Regions from separate parts of the Homo sapiens genome. Here region 1 is linked to region 2. The links come from fine-mapping of genetic effects on gene expression. A gene starts in region 2. The other region holds a variant in brackets. All regions are shown on one strand. Distances are between the middles of the regions. Region 1 has its middle 1.9 kb from the start of HYOU1-AS1. Region 2 holds the start of VPS11 (VPS11 core subunit of CORVET and HOPS complexes).

Region 1 (2,909 bases), 25 kb after region 2:
CTGCTAACATTATTTGGACTCCTATATCCCAGGCATTTTTAAGTAACGTACTTTTTTTTTTTTTTTTTCTTTGAGACTGGGTCCTGCTCTGTTGCCCAGGCTGGAGTATAGTAATGCGATCCAGGCTCACTGCAACCTCCGCCTCCCGGGTTCAAGTGATTCTACTGCCCCAGCCTCCTGAGTAGCTGGGATTACAGGCACCTGCCACCATACCCAGCTAAATTTTTTTTGTATTTTAGTAGAGACGGGGTTTCACCATGTTGGCTAAGCTGGTCTGGAACTGACCTGAAGCGATCCACCTGCCTTGGGCTCCCAAAGTGCTGGGTTTACAGGCCTGAGCCACTGGGCCCAGCTGGTAACATTAATTTTTAAAATAGCAACCTCATTGTACAAATAAGATACCAGTTCATAGAGATTTAGCAAGTAATTGGTCCAAGGAATGAATCAATGTTGAGTGCTTCAGCTAGGTTTGAGCTTAATTCTGACCATTCGCCCTTGTTCTTCGTACTTAGCCGTGGGAATGTGTTGGTAGAGACCATTTGTAGCAGTTTCGGTTCATCAGTTTGGGATGCAGCATGCCTAGCCCAAATTTTCTATTACCAAGGGAGGATCCCTCTTGTCACTAATCATGTACATATCTAAGCAGTTGTATACGGTATACAGGGTGTTGCTCTGTCACCCAGGCTGGAGTGCAATGGTGCCATCTTGGCCCACTGCAGCCGCGACCTCCCAGGCTCAAGCAATCCTCCCACCTCAGCCCTGTAGCAGGGACTACCTGGCTAATTTTTGTATTTTCTGGTCGAGACGGGGTTTCACTATGTTGCTCAGGCTGGTCTTGAACTCCTGGACTCAAATGATCTGCTTGCCTTGGCCTCCCAAAGTGCTGGGATTACAGGTATGAGCCACTGAGCTTGGCCCCGTTGTATTTACATTTAATAACCATGAAGGCCCAGCCGGGTGTAGTAGCTCACGCCTGTAGTCCTAGCACTTTGGGAGGCCAAGGCAGGCGGATCATGAGGTCAGGAGATCCGAGACCATCCTGGCTAACACAGTGAAACTCCGTCTCTACTAAAAATACAAAAAATCAGCCGGACATGGTGGCACCCGCCTGTAGTCCCAGCTACTCAGGAGGCTGAGACAGGAAAATCAATTGAACCCGGGAGGATGAGGTTGCAGTGAGCTGAGATCGTGCCACTGCACTCCAGCCTGGGCGACAGCTAGACTCTGTCACACACAAAAAAAATAACCACGAAGGGTTGTCTTTTTTCTCTAAAAGTTGAACAAGTCAGATAAGTTTTGAATGTGGAAGTTTTGGGTTTTTGTTTTTTTTTTTTTGGATGACTTTTAGACAGTTTCAGATTCACAGCAGAATTGAGCAGGAGGTACAGAGTTGCCATATACCTCCTGTCCCCACATACTCAATCTCCCCCAGAGTGGTACATTTGTTACAATCACCCAAAGTTCTGTATGACACCATAATGGTGGGTACATATACATTTGT[C/G]AAAACCTATAGAATGTGCAACACCAAGACAACTGAAAGTGTAGACTTTGGGCAAATATGATGAGTCAGTGTAGGTTCCTCAGATGTAACACCTGTAGACCTCTGGTGTGAAGTGTTTATTATGGGGGAAGCTGTGAGTGTATGGAGGAAGGGAATATACGGGAACTCTGTATTTTCCCCTCAATTTTGCTGTGAACCTAAAAGTGCTCTAAAAAAAAAAGGCGAAGCTAAGTGCAGTGACTCATGGCTGTAATACCAGTGTTTGGGGAGGCAGGAGTGGAAGGATCGCTTGAGGCCAGGAGTTTGAGACAACATAGCCAGACCTCATCTCTACAAAAAATAGTAGTCCTAGCTACTCAGGAGGCAGAGGCAGGAGGATCACTTGAAACTAGGAGTTCAAAGCTGCAGTAGATTATGATCGCACCACTGCACTGCAGCCTGGGAGGGAGAGACCCCGACTCAAAAAAAAAAAAAAAAGGCCCGGCGCGCCTTGCCTCAAGCCTGTAATCCCAACACTTTGGGCGGCCGAGGCAGGCGGATCACCTGAAGTCAACAGTTTGAGACCAGCCTGGGCGACAAGAGCGAAACTCTGTCTCAAAAAAAAAAAGGGTGGGGAGGTGGGGGGCAGGCACGGTGGCTCGGGCTAGTAATCCCAGCACCTTGGGAGGCTGAGGCAGGCAGATCACAAGGTCAGAAGTTTGAGACTAGCCTGGCTAACACAGTGAAACCCTGTCTGTACTAAAAATACAAAAATTAGCTTGGCGTGGTGGTGGGCACCTGTAATCCCAGCTACTCAGGAGGCCGAGGAAGGAGAATCACTTGAACCCAGGAGACAGAGGTTGCAGTGCGCCAAGACTGGGCCACGGCACTCCAACCTGGCAACAGAGCAAGACTCCGTCTCAAAAAAAAAAAAAAAAAAAAAAAAAAATCGGGACTAGATGGCTTCACTGGTGAATTCTACCAAATATTTTTAAAATATTTATTTTGGCCAGGGATGGTGGCTCACATCTGTAATCCTAGCACTTTGGGAAGCCGAGGTGAGTGGATTGCCTGAGCTCTGAAGTTTGAGACCACCCTGGGCAACATGGCGAAACACCATGTCTACTAAAATACAAAAAATTAGCCGGGTGTGGTGGTGTGTGCCCGTAGTCCCAGCTACTTAGGAGGCTGAGGCTTGAGAATTACTTGAACCCAGGAGGCAGAAGTTGCAGTGAGCTGAGGTCATGCCACTGCACTCCAGCCTGGGCAACAGAGCGAGACTCTGCCTCAAAAATAAAAATAAAAAATAGCCAGGCCCGGCCGGGCGCAGTGGCTCACACCTGTAATCCCAGCACTTTGGGAGGCCGAGGCGGGCGGATCACCTGAAGTCAGCAGTTCGAGACCAGCCTGGCCAACATGGTGAAACCCA
Region 2 (2,906 bases):
ATGGTGCGTGCCTGTAATTTCAGCTACTCAGGAGGTTGAGGCAGGAGAATTGCTTGAACCCGGGAGGCGGAGGTTGCAGTGTGCCCAGATCATGCCATTGCACTCCAGCCTGTGCAACAAGAGTGAAAGTCCGTCTCAAAAAAAAGAAAAAAATTTAGTGCGCCGGGCGCGATGGCTCACTCCTGTAATCCCAGCACTTTGGGAGGCCGAGGCGGGTGGATCACGAGGTCAGGAGTTCGAGACCAGCCTGGCCAATATGGTGAAACCCCGTCTCTACTGAAAATGTAAAAAATTAGCCGGGTGTGGTGGCAAGCGCCTGTAGTCCCAGCTACTCGGGAGGCTGTGGCAGGAGAATCGCTTGAACTCAAGAGACGGTTACAGTGAGCCCAGATCCCGCCACTGCACTCCAGCCTGGGCAACAGAGTAAGACTCCGTATCAAAAAAAAAAAAAAAAAAAAAAAGGTAAAAAGGCCAGAATTTAGTAGCAGCAACATGAAGATGAAAGCAACAAACCGCTAGGCTCATTTACCTCCTCGCCAACGATAATATTAGGGCAGGGGAAATCATGTCACTTTACATATTCATCTTTTAAAGCCAACTTGCATTCTTTTTCTTATTGATCTCAAATTAACCTCGTCAAATTGGCATGCACACATCTCCTACAGATAAGGAAATTAAAACCCAGAGAGGTTAAATGACTTGCCCAGGATTGCTCAGTTGATAACAAGTTAGGAGATGGACTTCCTTCTTTCTTCCCGTAGACCACAGAACAACTCTGGATGACCAGCTAAACCAAAGAGGCGCGCGGCACGGACCCCTCCGACAAACAGATTTCATCCTAACTCGATCTCTTCGGGATCCCGGGAGGGAAAAGACAGCTCCAAACGAAGGATATCTCCAAAGACCAGGCTCCCTCGGCCTGAGTCGCAGACAGTGATGCCAGGAGGGAGGCAAAGGAACTTGGAAGCAGCGGATCCAGAAGCAGGTGTGGCCCCGGGAGCGGCCCCATCATTGCTCAGCGGCTCCTTCACCAGCTCCTTGTCGAAGAAAACGAAGCGCCGCCACTGCAGGTAGGCCGCCATTTTGGCCCAGGGCTCCCACCTCCGGGAGCTTTGTCACGTGAGCTGAGCCAGCGAATCACGTGGTCGGCAGCTTCCGGGAGCCCGCGGGCCCAGGAGCTCCTGAGTCGGGGTGACAGCGTCCCGCTGCTGGGAAAGTGGGCGGGGCCGCGCGGGGTAGTCCTAGATCTGCAGTGTGCGAGTTTGCCGGATGTGACTGTAACTTCGCTAGCTAAAATGCTTGAGAGCGGACCCTTCATCCCTTTGAGCATGTTTCTTCCTAAAATGCGCGGATACCGGGAGATCAAGATGAGGGATGTCATGTGCCTTGTGAACTGTCACCCGCCGTGCGTAAGTGAATGACGTTTTGACCTCACAGGACTGTTTTGGGGCATAAATGAAACAGTGTATGTTAAACCAGGTTTTCGGCTGTATGAGAGGAGAAATAAAATTAGAAGTTTGTGTCTGCCACCACGCAGATTGTGAACCATAGTCAATGTTTTATATTCGTTTTTGTTTCCCCCGTCAGAGCGTATGACACCTAACAGACGCTCAAAACGTTTCTTAAGGAAACGGGCTGGGCGCGATGGCTCATGCCTGTCTGTAATCCCAGCACTTTGGGAGGCCGAGGTGGGGGAATCACTTGAGCCCAGGTGTTCGAGACCAGCCTGGGCAACATGGTGAAACCCCATCTCTACAAAAAATACAAAAATGAGCCTGGCATGGTGGTGGACACCTGTGGTCCCAGCTACTTGGGAGGCTGAAGTGGGAGGATCGATTGAGCCCCGGAGTTGGAAGCTGCAGTGAGCTGTGATCGAGCCGCTGCACTCCAGCATGGGCGACAGAGCAAGACCTTGTCTCAAAAAAAAAAAAAGGAAACTGGGAAATACTGGTGGGGCAGGAATTCCCAAGGCCCTGGGCTTTCTCCCCCTTTCATAGTGGCAGGGTAGGGGACATAGAACTGAGCAAAAACCTGGAAGTGGCAGCTTTGAGAGCTGAGTGTTTTAATGAGAAGTGGCAGGTGTCCAAGATATTACATGATCATTCTCCACTCCCAACTCTGGCTAAACCATCTTTGAATCCAAGCAAGATCTATCCTCATGGACAACTACTGCAGGTTTACTGTTTGTGTGCCATGAGAACCTATAGACAGAAGTGACATAGCATCATTTTGAGATGGTAGGGACATATGGAAAAGTGACCCTGTGGTATTTGTGAAGTTTATTGTTTGCACTCCCCCAACTTCCTTTTTTTTCTTTTTTCTTTTTTTTTTTTTTTTTTTTTAGACAGAGTCTCTCTCTATCCCCCAGGCTGAAGCGCAGTGGCACAATCTCAGCTGACTGCAACCTCCGCCTCCCGAGTTCAAGCGATTCTTATGCCTCAGCCTCCTGAGTAGCTGGGATTACAGCTGCCTGCCACCACGCCTGGCTAATTTTTGTATTTTTAGTAGAGTTGGGGTTTTGCCATTTTGGCCAGGCTGGTCTCGAACTCCTGACCTCGGGTGATCCACCCGCCTCGGCCTCCCAAGTACTGGAATTACAGGCGTGAGCCACCGCACCCGGCCCTCCCCCAACTTATTTCAGAATATTTGATGCTGTATTTCCACCAGCCAGAGTTCCCTGAGAGCGGGGGCTACATCTTGTACCGTAACTGTGAACGAGGCCTAGCAGAGCCTGGTAGAAGTTCCATGTTTGGTTGAAGGAATGAATGTGGTGTGGATGCCTCTCCTCTTATCCACTCCTCTCCTCAATCTGGTTGATGGGCAGGTGGCGTCCATTTGTCTGAAGAGGTAAATGATAGGAAGAAACTCTAGCCACCACCATGCACACAGATTTCCTGACTTCCAAC

What was found. PIP is the estimated chance that this variant, and not a neighbour inherited with it, causes the effect.
Region 1: its variant is the best candidate, but not a certain one, in a credible set for the expression of VPS11 in whole blood (INTERVAL, PIP 0.55).

What each region holds. Positions count from the first base shown.
Region 1 is chr11:119,040,865-119,043,773 of GRCh38, reverse strand. No RefSeq gene overlaps it. Among named protein-coding and RNA genes, the nearest start is that of HYOU1-AS1, 1.9 kb to the left of the region's middle. The variant C/G (reference allele first, on the strand shown) is at 1,502.
Region 2 is chr11:119,066,000-119,068,905 of GRCh38, reverse strand. VPS11 (VPS11 core subunit of CORVET and HOPS complexes) reads right to left here and starts at 1,088. Exons shown (of 16, transcript NM_021729.6): 1 at 896-1,088. The coding sequence starts at 1,082. It overlaps LOC124902769 (a long non-coding RNA gene), which reads left to right and starts at 1,151. Exons shown (of 2, transcript XR_007062917.1): 1 at 1,151-1,409. RefSeq lists enhancers at 941-990, 1,051-1,100.